Linked DNA regions of Homo sapiens. Changing the gene in region 1 together with any one later gene gives a genetic interaction. Each region holds a gene or a part of one and is shown on either strand. Other genes may lie near its edges.

The links. Genes that interact genetically often act in the same process or in processes that back each other up.
Region 2: changes in DONSON (region 1) and RPL24 together harm fitness more than expected from each alone (negative genetic interaction), as found in Homo sapiens cells (one large-scale study listed by BioGRID).
Region 3: changes in DONSON (region 1) and CARS2 together harm fitness more than expected from each alone (negative genetic interaction), as found in Homo sapiens cells (one large-scale study listed by BioGRID).
Region 4: changes in DONSON (region 1) and PITRM1 together harm fitness less than expected from each alone (positive genetic interaction), as found in Homo sapiens cells (one large-scale study listed by BioGRID).

The regions. Positions count from the first base shown.
Region 1 is NC_000021.9:33,578,685-33,582,184, forward strand, and holds part of DONSON (protein downstream neighbor of Son), read right to left. Parts: coding exon 3,481-3,500; intron 3,372-3,480; coding exon 3,267-3,371; intron 2,817-3,266; coding exon 2,618-2,816; intron 879-2,617; coding exon 666-878; intron 1-665. UniProt on the Homo sapiens protein: Replisome component that maintains genome stability by protecting stalled or damaged replication forks.
Region 2 is NC_000003.12:101,680,591-101,683,718, reverse strand, and holds the end of RPL24 (large ribosomal subunit protein eL24), read left to right. Parts: intron 1-811; coding exon 812-948; intron 949-1,226; coding exon 1,227-1,290; intron 1,291-2,503; coding exon 2,504-2,584; 3' UTR 2,585-2,628; downstream 2,629-3,128. UniProt on the Homo sapiens protein: Component of the large ribosomal subunit. The ribosome is a large ribonucleoprotein complex responsible for the synthesis of proteins in the cell.
Region 3 is NC_000013.11:110,661,117-110,664,616, reverse strand, and holds part of CARS2 (probable cysteine--tRNA ligase, mitochondrial), read left to right. Parts: intron 1-570; coding exon of another isoform or gene 571-707; exon of another isoform or gene 708-1,098; coding exon 1,099-1,166; intron 1,167-3,500. UniProt on the Homo sapiens protein: Mitochondrial cysteine-specific aminoacyl-tRNA synthetase that catalyzes the ATP-dependent ligation of cysteine to tRNA(Cys). In addition to its role as an aminoacyl-tRNA synthetase, has also cysteine persulfide synthase activity.
Region 4 is NC_000010.11:3,141,783-3,145,282, forward strand, and holds part of PITRM1 (presequence protease, mitochondrial isoform 2 precursor), read right to left. Parts: exon of another isoform or gene 3,189-3,500; intron 2,585-3,188; coding exon 2,510-2,584; intron 2,205-2,509; exon of another isoform or gene 2,074-2,204; intron 1,994-2,073; exon of another isoform or gene 1,720-1,993; coding exon 1,607-1,719; intron 1,307-1,606; exon of another isoform or gene 1,190-1,306; intron 1-1,189. UniProt on the Homo sapiens protein: Metalloendopeptidase of the mitochondrial matrix that functions in peptide cleavage and degradation rather than in protein processing. Has an ATP-independent activity. Specifically cleaves peptides in the range of 5 to 65 residues.

The sequences.
Region 1 (3,500 bases):
AAGTATGTTCAAAATTAAAGGCAAATATGGTTAAATACCCACAGTGAATTGTTTCCTTAAACTATAAAGGAATCAGGTACTATTGAGTTTTGGATGCAAGAGGAAATGAAAAAGCTGCCCCTTTTTGGAATGGGAAGTTCTTCAGTCACTGTTAAAACTATTTGGACTGAGGCCGGGTGCCGTGGCTCAAGCCTGTAATCCCAACATTTTGGGAGGCCAAGGTGGGCAGATCACCTGAAGTCAGGAGTTCAAGACCAGCCTGGCCAACATGGTGAAACCCCCGTCTCTAATAAAGATACAAAAAATAGCCAGATGTGGTGGCACATGCCTGTAATCTCAGCTACTTGGGAGGCTGAGGCAGGAGAACTGTTTGAACCCAGGAGGCTAAGGCTGCAGTGAGCCGAGACTCGCGCCGCTGCACTCCAGCCCGGGCAACAGCAAGACTCCATCTCAAAAAAAAAAAAAAATTGTACTTGGACTGAATTCATGAAAGCTACCTCACATAAACAACTTACAGACATTATTCCTTCCTCTAGTAATTCATAATTAAGTAACAGTTTAATTACTTGAAACACAATAGTGACTCAGCATAAATGACTCAATTTCCCTCCAGCTAGTTTGAGGAAACTACAACTAAAACAGTCTGCTCATAGGTGTCTACTTACCATATCAAGTACTTTGTCCATTTGCAGGCAGATGTTAAATACAGCAGTTGGCTCGTGTGGATACAGTACTGCAGAGAAAGATCCACTCTGTGAAGATTTGAGCAGCATGGTCAGTGAATGCAGAGAATGAGGCATGATAGGACCTGTAATCTCCAAACTAAATTGGTCTCTGTATCCAGAAAGAGCTTGTGTCTTCACATTCACACTCCGTGCCTTCATGAAAATGTAAAGAAAAGGAAAATTAAGATCATCTCTCAACCTTTTGCCTAGCCAAAAATATGTTCAATATATTTCCATTTGGGGTTTCCTCTCTTTTAACAATTATGGAATAAAACTATTTCCCAAGACATCTAAACAATGTTATGTGAGTACAAATACTTAGTAAATTTTCAGCAACCTTTCCATATTAAGAGATTTTCAGGTGAAGTATATTCCAGAGAATACCATTTTTTCATATAGTATTTTATCTGATTTAGTAATACACTGTCAATGCAGACTATTGGAAAAACAAAAATTTAAAATCCATTCAATTTTATTGCTAAGATTTAGCATGTATTTTGTATTTACATATATAATTTATTATGATTATAATCCCAGCACTTTGGGAGGCCAAGGTGGGCAGATCACTTGAGGTCAGGAGTTCAAGACCAGCCTGGCCAACATGGTGAAACCTCGTCTCTATTAAAAATACAAAAAAATTAGCCAGGCATGGTGGTGTGAGCCTATAGTCCCAGCTACTTGGGAAGCTAAGGCAGAAGAATCACCTGAGCCCCAGAGGCAGAGGTTGAAGAATCGCTTGAGCCCGTTAGGCAGAGTTTGCAGTGAGCCAAAATTGAGCCACTGCTCTCCAGCCTGGGTGACAGAGCAAGACTCCGTCTCTAAATAGATAGATGAATGAATGAATGAATGAATGAATGAATGCAGGGCGGCCAGGTGCAGTGGCTCATGCCTGTAATCCCAGCACTTTGGGAGGCCGAGGGCAGATCATGAGGTCAGGAGTTCGAGACCACCCTGACCAACATGGTGAAAACCCGTCTCTACAAAAAATACAAAAAAAAAAAAAAATTAGCCAGGCGTGGTGGCACACGCCTGGGTGAGAGTGAGATTCCACCTCAAAAAAAAAAAAAAAAAAAAAAAAAAAAAAAAAAAAAAAAAGCAGGGCATGGCAGTCCTGTGGTCCGATACTCGAGAGGCTGAGGCAGGAATTTCACTTGAGCCCACATGGTTGAGGCTGCAGTGAGCTGTGCCACTGCACTACAGCAAGACCCTGTCTCCCCAACCAAAAAAAGAAAATAAATGTTCGTATAATTTAAAAAGAGGCCAGGAGTTCAAGACCAGCCTGGCCAATATGGTGAAACTCCGTCTATACTAAAAATACAAAAATTAGCTGGGCGTGGTGGTGCCCACCTGTAACCCCAGCTACTCGAGAGGCTGAGGCAGAAGAATCGCTTGAACCCCAGAGTTGGAGGCTGCAGTGAGCCGAGATCGCACCACTGCACTGCAGCCGGTGACAGAGTGGGACTCCCTCTTAAAACAAACAAACAAAAACAAACAAGAAAAAAAAAAACAAAAAAAATAGCTAGGCTTGGTGGTGTGTGCTTGTAATCCCAGCTACTCAAGAGGCTGAGGCATGGCGCGAGAATCACTTGAACCCGGGAGGCAGGGGTTGCAGTGAGTTGAGATCACGCCACTGCACTCCATTCAGCCTGGATAGCAGCGCAAGACTCCATCTCGAAAAGAAAATAAAAAGGATTTCATATAATTTATATATTTCCACATAATTTCTTTGATATAACTGTCTTATATAATTTTTGTTTCTTTTTTTAATGGGAGGAAAGCAAAATGAAAATATGTACCAAGTAAAAATGCTAGGAGGTTTTTTTTTAAATCAAGAATTTATCCTATCAAAGTAAAGTACTTCTTAAAAGCTAGGTTATGCAGACTTTTATTACCTTAAGCATTTGCATTGTGGCACCTCGGAAAGCAACAGGGGACAAGAGGGTTGGAGGAAGTCCTGCCTGTGGACCTGAGGTAGCAACTAAACTCTTAGAGTTAATCAAAAAATTGAGCAATGTAAAGGTGTTGATTCCTTTTACCAACACAACAGATTCAGGTCTGTGATCCATTTGTACTTCATGTTTCTCTTTACGCCTGAAGATGACAATCAAGGAAATTGCAAAAGCAAATCTCACCTAATGTGGAAAGCAGTTATCTTGATTCTGAATCACCTGAGACTCCTTTTCTCCATAATGAAATGGAAATCCTCTTGCTACCTCTCTTTACCGAATCATAAGGCATATGTTTCAATCAAAATGTTAACAATCTGAATTTGCTACAAACTGACACCTAAACCTAATTTCTTCTCTAGTCAAAACACACCTATTCTCCCACAATCATAATTGAACGTTTTGATTAAAAAAGGTTTAATAGTTCACCATTTGTTGATACTTAGGGGCTTATTTAGTATTACAATGGAGAATTAGTTTTAATATGACCTGAAGATAATTTAAGATTATAATCATATAAAACTGCCAATGTTAAACTTCTCACTAACGTCATTCAATGAAAATTAATTCTAGTTAACAACAACTGAAAGGATACAGCTTGATAGAAAGTATGTCTGGCTTTTTAATTTTATCTTGCACACCCATCTCTTCCAGCCAGGAAAAACTTTCCTCTTCATCCTCATCACTGATGGCTTGCTCCCTAGGAAATTGCTACAGTTAGAGTCCCTATTTCACAAGCTGTTCCTGTGCAAATCTATTTCATGAGTCCATAAGTCAGTGGATGATATAAAGTTATTTTAATCACATACTCCCCATATCCCAAGCTTGT
Region 2 (3,128 bases), on another chromosome or scaffold:
AAAAAAAAAAAGAAAAGAAAAACCAAAAGGTTAAAATTGTCAACTTTACATTTTTACCACAATAAAAAAAATGTTTAAGTGTTCGTTTGAGACAAGAATATTAAACAGGTAAATACTGCCATTTACTGTAGAAAAACTGCCATTTTACTGTAGAAACAATAAGATTGCATCTTTCTAAAAAGTTTAAAATTAGCATGTCTGTAAACCACCAATGTGCCTTATTTTTGTTAAAAGTTTTTAAGGTAATTTTGCATGTCAGTGCCTTAATAAACAACTATTCGAATATACTTTGTTCTTGACTTAAAGGTGCACTGCAAGATCTTTTTCTCATAAACACTGTAGTATAGATTTCCAGTAATCTACAGAAAGTGTTAGATTCCACAATACCTTCTCAGACAAATCCTACCTAACATTTGGTGGCTCTCCTGTCAAATAATTGTCTTAATTTATTTCTCCTAGTGACAGTCCTTTGAGTTAAAAAAGCTGAATATGATAATTTTTTTCAATAAGTAAATTATTAAAAGTATAAACAGTCTTCATTTATACTACTATGCAGTTCATGGAATAACCATTTTCCTTAGAGTTCAATTTTTTGTGTGTCTTTTTAAGGTAGTAAAAAAATGGCTAGGATTTGTAATAGAGGGCTTAATCCATAAGGGAAAACATGTTTTATTTCAAATATATGAATTATTTTTTGTTGAATATGAATCTTAAAATACTTCATTTGCCCTGTCTTAAAAGACTTAATTTTTCCTCCCTCTAAATTCTTGAAGGAAGGTTCCTAAGTGTGCCCCTCATCTTTGTTTTGCAGGAAGAAATTCAAAAGAAAAGAACCCGCCGAGCAGTCAAATTCCAGAGGGCCATTACTGGTGCATCTCTTGCTGATATAATGGCCAAGAGGAATCAGAAACCTGAAGTTAGAAAGGCTCAACGAGAACAAGCTATCAGGTGAGGAATGCTTTCATTATGAGCATTTTACCTATTCGGATGGATTTTAGGTTTGGGTCTTCAGTAATTAAAGTTACCATATAGATTAATATATGTTAAGCTGATTTGGTGGTTAATGAAAATTATTGACAAATTCTTTGGATTTAGCCTACAAATAAATGGAGGTAGGGAAGGAAGGAATATGGTCATTGTACTTGTCCAGTACAGTCTAACTCTAATAATAAGTTGTACCACTAAGGAGTAAAGTGCTTTTGCCTTAAGTTACTTTTACCCCACAGGGCTGCTAAGGAAGCAAAAAAGGCTAAGCAAGCATCTAAAAAGACTGCAATGGCTGCTGCTAAGGTAATTATGGGGTTTCTTTACTTTCTTGAACAATACAACAGGAAAATTTTCTTTTTTTGAGACGGAGTCTTGCTCTGTTGCCCAGGATGGGGTGCAGTGGCGTGATCTGATCTCAGCTCACTGCAACCTCTGCCTCCCGGGTTCAAGTGATACTCCTGCCTCAGCCTCCCGAGTAGCTGGGAGTACAGGTGCGCGCCATCACGCCCGGCTGATTTTTTGTTTGTTTGTTTGTTTGTTTAAGTAGAGACAGGGTTTCACCATGTCGGACAGGCTGGTCTTGAACTCTTGACCTCAGGTGATCTGCCCACCTCAGCCTCCCAAAGTGCTGGGGTTACAAGTGTGAGCCACTGAGCCCGGCTGGAAAATTTATTTTCAGTCTAAATTGTGATAAATGAAAGTTTCACAGTTTTAAGGTATTGAATGCAAGGCTCAATTGGAAATGATGTTTGTAACCAATTACTTGGCCAATGGTTCAGGTCTCCAGAGAGGTGGTCCTCTCCATAAGCCAAAGCATGTGTTACTGTTAGGAACTGGGAAAAATAAAGGTTGGCCTTTTTGTTTGTTTGTTTGTTTGTTTTTTTCCCCCTTCAACACAGGGCCTCACTCTGTAGCCCAGCTGGAGTGCAGTGGCACAATCACGGCTTGCTGCAGCCTCAACCTCCTGGGCTCAAGTGATCCTCCTGACTCAGGCCCCTAAGTAGCTGGGACTACAGGCAAGCACTACCAAACCCAGCTAATAGGTATTTTAGTTGAGATGGTTTCGCCATGTTGCCCAGGCTGGCCTCAAACTCCTGAGCTCAAGCGATCCACCTGCTTTAGCACCCCGAAGTGTTGGGATGAGCCCCTGCACCATGCCTGGTTTTGAAAGTTACTATGGTTATCTACATTGATAACATTGAGAAAAGCTGAGTAAACACTGTACTGTTACTGAGATCTTTTCTGTGAGTTTCTGTTAGGATGCATTTCAGGATCCTACACTGCACTTGGTTGTGTCTCATTTCATCCAGTCTGTGAGGGTATCTTAGTCTTTGTCTTTCATTGTAAAGATGGGCTTTAAATATTTAAGGGTAGTCACATTAAAAGATTGGCATTAGGAATGCAGTTAAATTACTAAGAAAGTGATCTAAGCTACATAAACAATCTGGATGTGAGAGATGGGTAATAATAGGGTAACAAAAGTTTTGTGGAGTAATATTGTGTTATCTTTTTACAGGCACCTACAAAGGCAGCACCTAAGCAAAAGATTGTGAAGCCTGTGAAAGTTTCAGCTCCCCGAGTTGGTGGAAAACGCTAAACTGGCAGATTAGATTTTTAAATAAAGATTGGATTATAACTCTAGGTTGTGCTGGATTTTTTTTTTTTCTTGTAACAGGCATGTTGGACTTTACACGGTCATAGGTGACCTAACAAAGAATGTAAGACGTAGGTATTTTATTAAAAAGTCTATTGCTCAGGAATAATGCATCCTATAAAGTTTTAACTTCTTTGTTGGAGAGAGGTTAAGCAAAATAATGTAAGATGGGTAAGGTCAGATGCTATCTTGGCTTGGCTGGGGTGTATAGGGCACATTAGAAAAACTTAATTGCCTTAACTTTTTGGTTACATTGCTGTAAGTATTAGGATGTTGCTGGTGCAGTGGCTCACGCCTGTAATCCCAGCATTTGTAAGACCAAAGCCAGGTGATCACTTGAGCTCAGGAGTTCAAGACCAGCCTGAGTGACATGGCGAAACCCCATCTCTACAAAAACATTCAAAAGTGAGCCAGGCATGGTGGAGAGTGTATATAGTCCCAGCTGGGAAGCTGGGAGTGTGGAAGGTGGAAGGATCGCTTGAGCCAG
Region 3 (3,500 bases), on another chromosome or scaffold:
TAATCACATTATATAGAATTACATGTTCAAAGTTATATATGTTTTTTGGAAATCACATTCTAATTGGTTGGTTGGTTGGTGTATTTATTTATTTATTTTTGAGGCAGAGTCTCGCTCTGTGGCCCAGGCTGGAGTGCAGTGACATGAACATAGCTCACTCTAGGCCCAACCTCCTGGGCTCAAGCGATCCTCCCACCTCAGTCTCCTGAGTTGTTGGGATGTTGGGACTGCAGGTGTGCCCCACCACGCCCAGCTAATTTTTAATTTTTTTTGTAGAGACCGGGTGTTGCCATGTTGCCCAGACTGGTCTCCAAACTCCTGGGCTCAAGCGGTCCTTCCACCTTAGCCTCCCAAAGGGCTGGTATTACGGGTGTGAGCCACTGCGTCCGGCCTGGAGGACTCCTGTTTGAAGTTGTGTCAGAAAAAGAGGAAGAGTCTTCTGTTAGAAACAGAAAGCCCTTCTCTTGGAGATAAGCCTTGTAAAAAGCTACAGGCCAGGGAGAATTTCAGGGTCAGATTCAGGAGTTCCTTAAATGAGTTTGGTTTTCCTCCTGTCTTTCACATACATAGGGGATGAAATAATACCCAGGTCATCAAAGTCTGTGAAACCAACTGCAACAGGACCTCTGATTCTTCCCACTCAGAGACCCACAAGTGCCACTCTGTTTTTGGACAACGGTCAACAAGCTTCACCGCCAAGTGCCTGATTTGTCAAATGAGAGCTTTGTCGTTTCTTCAGATGCTGACCAGTATCTGAATTCAGTATCTCTGAATTACAGGAGAGGAGAAAATAGATGAAATACTGCTGTCAGTACCACGGTTGCTGGCTCTTGTTTAGCTTCTGAGTCAGCTGGGGCACCCCTGCCATCTGCTCTCAGTGTGGGGCTGGGTGTCCCTGCACCGTGGAACAAGGGCAGGTCCTGTCTTCCCGGAAGGCCCAGCACGGGTGAAGATTTGGGGGCAGATTTATACCAACATACACTGGTCTATACATTGGATATGTGCAGGTTCCCATTCGTTTCCTGGGGAGCCATGTGTCCCTGAGGCCAGAGAGTCTCCTCACCCAGCTCAGACTGAATGCTTTTGTTTTTGTTTCAGGGCATTTGCACGCCAAAGGCAAAGAAGAAAAAATGTCCAAATCATTAAAGAACTACATTACTATTAAGGTAACGTGCTTTTTGTATTGTATCTCTGAGGTGCCGATAGCTTGTGGAACCCATCTTAAAGGCTTCTGTGTCATTTGAGAACCACGGAATCCCATTCCCAGTGCCCTCTGGCCCCTTTCTTATGACGAGACCTGCCTCACCTCCCTCCCACTTTAAGTGGCTCTCCGCCTAATCGCGCCCTCAGCTGTGCGCCTCCCGCAGGTTTCCGCAGTCCCTTTCTTGGTGGAGCTTCCCTTTCTCTTTCCGTGTTTCAAGGCCGGCGCCCTCTTCCTTGCCTTTTCCTTTTATAATTGTTGTCTCCCTCTTGGTGCATCTGCTGACTTCCTTCCCGCCCTCACCCACCACCTCTTACTGGTGTGGCTTTGGGATTTGTTTAGGTTTTGCTGTTTGCCCTTAATAGGCTCAGAGCTGGCTGGATCCTTAACCAACCTGAAAAATGGCATCATGCTATGCTGCTGACACATGGAATGTGAATTTTCGTGTGAATGGAAAACAGGCACACCCACGGAGGGCTCTGGCTGACATAGTTTGAACTCCTCCTTTGTCTTCTGGCCTGTCTTTAAAGCCAGATTTAATTTAATTGCAAAATAAATGGAGAAGAATAGTATCCAGATCTCACCGCCTAAATAGCAAACCAGTGAAAGCTGTACCCATCAGATTTAGGATACACCAACAGGGACTGCTCCTCACAAAATAATTTGTATATAGTTTCCTTAAGTAGAATTTTTCCGTTTTATCCTAGGCAAAATTTCAAACCGATAGAAAAGTTGAAAGAAACATCACTATGGCTCCACCCAGATTCAGTAGTTGTGATGATTTTGCTGTATTTGCTGTGTAGGATCTTTTTCGCCTACCCAGCTTAGATTCTCCCACCGGGGAGCCTCAATTAAATTGGTAAATTAGACTCTGGCCAAAGACAGATTAGCAAGAGAAAAACAAAGAGAAATGTGTTAGAGCGTGCACGGCACACGTGGAGGTGGAGCACAGGGTTGCATGACACAGAGGAAGGTTGGAGCCCGGGGCCACGGGGTTGCATGACGCAGAGGGGGTCCAAACCCAGCCACGGGGTTGCATGGTATGCAGTGGGGTCGGAGCCTGGCCATGGGGTTGCATGACGCAGAAGGGGGTCCGAAGCCGGCCATGGGGTTGCATGACGCAGAGGGGGGTCGGAGCCCGGCCACGGGGTTGCATGACGCAGAGAGAGGTCCGAACCCGGCCGTGGGGTTGCATGACGCAGAGGGGGTCCGAACCCGACCATGGGGTTGCATGGTGCAGAGTGGGTCGGAGCCCGGCCACTGCAGGGACCTTGCTTTATTGAGCTTCACTTGACCGCACTTCGCAGATGCTGTGTCTTTACAGATTGAAGGTTTGTGGCAGCCCTGCACCAAGCAAATCTGTTGGCACAATTTTGCCAACAGCATGTTCTCACTTCCTTTCTGTGTGTCATGTTTGGGTAATTCTTGCAATATTTCAAAGTTTCTCATTATTAAATCTGTTATGGTGATCTGTGGTCAGTGATCTCTGATGTTACTGTTGTAATTGTTTTCGGGCTCCATGAACCACATCCATGGAAGACAGAACTTAGTATGTGTTGTGCATGTTCTGACTGCTCCACCAACTGTCCATTCCTTTAAATCTGCCCCTCCTTGGACTCCCCTATTCCCTGAGACACAACATTATTGAAATTAGGCCAGTTACTAGCCCTACAGTGGCCTCTAAGTGTTCAAGTGAAAGGAAGAGTCACACATCTCTCACTTTCCATCAAAAGCTAGAAATGCTTAAGCTTAATGAGGAGGGTATGTCAAAAGCTGAGACAGGCTGAAAGCTAAGCCTCTTGCACCAAATATTTAGCTAAGTTGTGAATGCAAAGGAAAAGTTCTTGAAGGAAATCAAAAGTGCTATTCCAGCGAACACACGAATGATTAGCAAGCAAAACAACCTTATTGCTGATAATGGAGAAAGTTTGAGTGGTCTGGATAGAGAAGATCAAACCAGCCACAACATTCCTGTAAGCCACAGCCTAATCTGGAACAAGGCCCTAACTTTCTTCAGTTCTATGAAGGCTGAGAGAGATGAGAAAGCTGCAAAGAAAAGTTGGAAGCTAGCAGGGGTTGGTTTGTGAGGTTGAAGGAAAGAAGACCTAGCTAAAATAAGTGATGAAGGTGGCCACACTAAACAGCAGATCTTTCGAATGTAGATGAAATTGCCTTCTATTGGAAGAAGATGCTGTCTAGGACTTTTGTAGCTAGAAAGAAGTCAATGGCTGGCTTCAGAGCTTCAAAGGACAGGCTGACTATTGTTAGGGGCTAATGTAGCTGGTGACTTTAAGTTGAA
Region 4 (3,500 bases), on another chromosome or scaffold:
GAAGGAGTGGGCGTGTTCCCAGGGGCTGTGGTGGGAGAAGTCACGACCATCTCGTGTGGGTCCTCCAGGAGAAACCCAGCGCCACTCGGGTGGCTGGGGCGCCGTCAGCCGGGACTAGCGAGGCTGGAGTCAGACCCTGGGGGACGGAGTCTCCACCAGCACCGGCAGGGATGGCGTTCCATCCGTCCACACATTATCCTTCCTGAGAAATTTCTATTACTTGTATATTAAAAACATGCTCACTTTTGAAAGATTATAAAATACAAAACACAAGGAAAAAAAGATCTGGAATCCCACTGCCCAGGGGGAACCTCCACATTTTTAGTGTTTTCTGTCTACATTTTCCTGTTGGATAGTGGAAACAGACACCACTCTTCTGCCGGCATAGCAGACAGATCTGTTCATCTTCTACAAATATGGAAATAAATGAACAAAACAGCTGACCACATACTTCTACAGCCAGCTCTTTCTGGGCCCCCACTGCAGCCCCACGTTTCTTCCCGCCTGCCTCCTACACACCTCCCCATCTGTGACCCTCTGTGACACACGTGCACCTCGGAGGCCCGGCTCCTTCTCCAATCAGGACAGGCTGCCCAGGCCTAAGCCTGCCTTCCCCCTCTCTACCAGGCTCACTCCTTGGTTTAGTCCCTCATGGGGGTAGCTGCCTGGGACAAGGACACAGGAAGTGAATTTCCGGGATATAACATGTTTGCACATATCTGTGTCATACACACCCAACTGACGGGTCCCCAAAGGTGCACGTCTGTGAGTCTGTCCTGGTCTGGCCAGTTTCCCCAGATGGGATGAACACAGCCAAGGGGCAGCCAGAGTTCGGAAGAAGGGGCTGGAGGGCCAGTCTGTAGGCTGCAAACTCCCTCGCCCCACGCCACTTTGGGAACAGGCCTGACCCTGACTCTTGGCTGTGGCTTCGGCTGCTCAACCCAGGGCCTCCTTCCCTGAGCTTCTGACTTGGTGGGGAGACAGGGGAGACAAACTCCTTAGAGGGACTGTGAGGCGGCCTCCAGCCCTGCCATCTGCAGGGCTCTGCAGGACCACCTGGTTTCTCCCCACTGCCCTGTCCCTCTGTGGCCCCAGGTCAGGCACCCCCCACCCACCCAGAGTCTGGCTCACGAGGTTCTCCTGCAGCCCCCATGGCTCTCCGGGTCACCTCCCACTCTTTCCCTTGTAGCTTCGTGTCTTGATCTGCCTTTGCTGTCATTCACGCATCTGTCCTCATGAAGGCTTAACCTACCATGTTTATCAGAAATCTCAGCCTAAATTCATTCGATTTTTACCTAGAGATGAGGTGAGTACATGGGGCATGTTGAAAGCAGTCTGTGTTTAAGGTCATAGGTATCTGTATTGTTCATAGGACTCCTCAATAATAGAAATTGTTTACAAAAATGACTGGCTCTAAAACTGGGTCTCTGTTCACAAAGACTGCTGGTTAAAGAGGAGCACTCGTAGACTCACACAGCCCCAGGTCCAACACTCAGAGTCAGCACAGACTTTTCCTGTGCTAAAACACGCCCTGTGAACTCGAACAGCCTTGACAAGCTCTTCCGTAAGGCTCAGGCCTGAGAGGTCCCGACCTACACCCTCCTACCTGGCATGATCTGGGTCCGTGTAGGGGACAGTTCGGATGCATTCACCCACGTAATTCACCGGGAAGGGCATCAGGAAGTGAGTCTTCATCTGCCAGGGCTTGAAGGTGGGTTCCTGAGGGACACGGTATGGTCAGAGGCGGCTGTGCTGCCATGCACCGCCCACGGCACTGGGACTGGACCCACTCAGGGGTCAGAGGCGGCTGTGCTCCCACGCACTGCCCACGGCACTGGGACTGGAGCCATCTCAGGGGTCCCATCTCCGTGACACTCTGCAGCCAGGTGCTGGGGCGCGAGAGCAAGGCACTGCAGTTCCGTCACTCCACACAATTTCTCACTGTAAAACTGACATGAAGTCCTCCAATCTTGACGTGATGCCTTAACGTATACTGTTCAATTAAAAACATTTCATTCTACGCCGTTTATATCACAGTTACATATTTATATTTCATATCATATTATATCATAGGAATGTGTTAAATCACTCTACTCCACAAGGAACCAAACCAAACAGCATCAGCACCAGGCTGAGTCGCGGAAAGGATCTGTCAGACCGCTCCACTGGCATCGACTCAGCTCGGGAGCTACGTTCAAAGAAGGGTGAGTTGCCCGGGAGGAGACCACCCAGAGCAGTAGCCCTCTTCCTGGGCACAGGGAAGACGCACCCCATACCAGGGCCCTCCTCGGCACAGGAGGACACACCCCCACCAGGGCCTTCACTCAGTACTGTCTGAGAGAGAAAAGGCTCAGGGTGGCAGTGACAAAGGATGCACTGAACTCGCAACTCTAGGGACACGCCAGCCCCACAGACAGGCGGACGGAGGAACATTCGAACATCAGTGGCAGACACAGCCATGCAGGGAAGCACCCACCCGCTGGCAACCCGGATGGGCTGTGGTTCTTACCATGACCAGCTTCCTAATGACCTGGGAGCCATGGGGAACGTGGGCATCTCCACCAGAGCTGCTGGGCACAGGTTTCTGAAAATCAAGTTTCCAAGAGAAAAGAGAAAAATCCAGAACTCACTTGAAATATATAAGAAGTAACAGAGTTTATAAAATTCACACAGCTAATAACAAGTGTTAGGGCAGGTGTAAGTGTTTTAAATAATAAACGCTTAAAAAAAATAAAAATAGGCTGGGCAGAGTGGCTCATGCCTATAATGCCAGCACTTTGGAGGCTGAGGTGGGAGGATTGCTTGGGTCCAGGAGTCTGAGACCAGCCTGGGCAATGTAGTGAGCTCCCATCTCAACAAAAAATTTTTAAAAATTAGCTGGGCATGGTGGTGCACACCTGTAGCCCCAGCTACTTGGGAGGCTGAGATTGGAGGATCACTTGAGCCCAGGAGGTCACGGCTACAGCTAGTTGTAATGGCACCACTGCACTCCAGCCCGAGTGCCAGAGACAGACCCTGTCTCAAAATAACAAAAACTAAAAAAAGAAATAAAGTGAGTAAAAGAAATTAAGAAAATATTAAAATAAATTTTCAGACAGTCAAGGAAAAGGTAGCCTTGTTATATGGTACAAAGAAAATATTTTAACCTTTCTTTCTGCACTTTCTTGTCATTAATCTGTCAAATCAAGAGGACATTTAAGGTGAAAGGGTTGCAGGCAGAGGGGCCTGGAGCAGCAGGAGGCCACCTCCCAAAGGCTCCACTCCCAGGGGCCAACAGAGAGACCACATCCAGAATTGAACCAGGGATACGCAGACACCAACGGAGAAGACATGAGCGTCAACCTCCTCCACGGAGCAGCACGGCTTCTCTACTGACATCCATGAACTAGACTACAACTCTCTAAGTTAATCAAATTTACTAAGTTAGTTATCACCGACATCACTGTTCCATGTCAAATCCATGGATTCATGAGTCAAAGAAACAGCAGTGAACAGCCTTC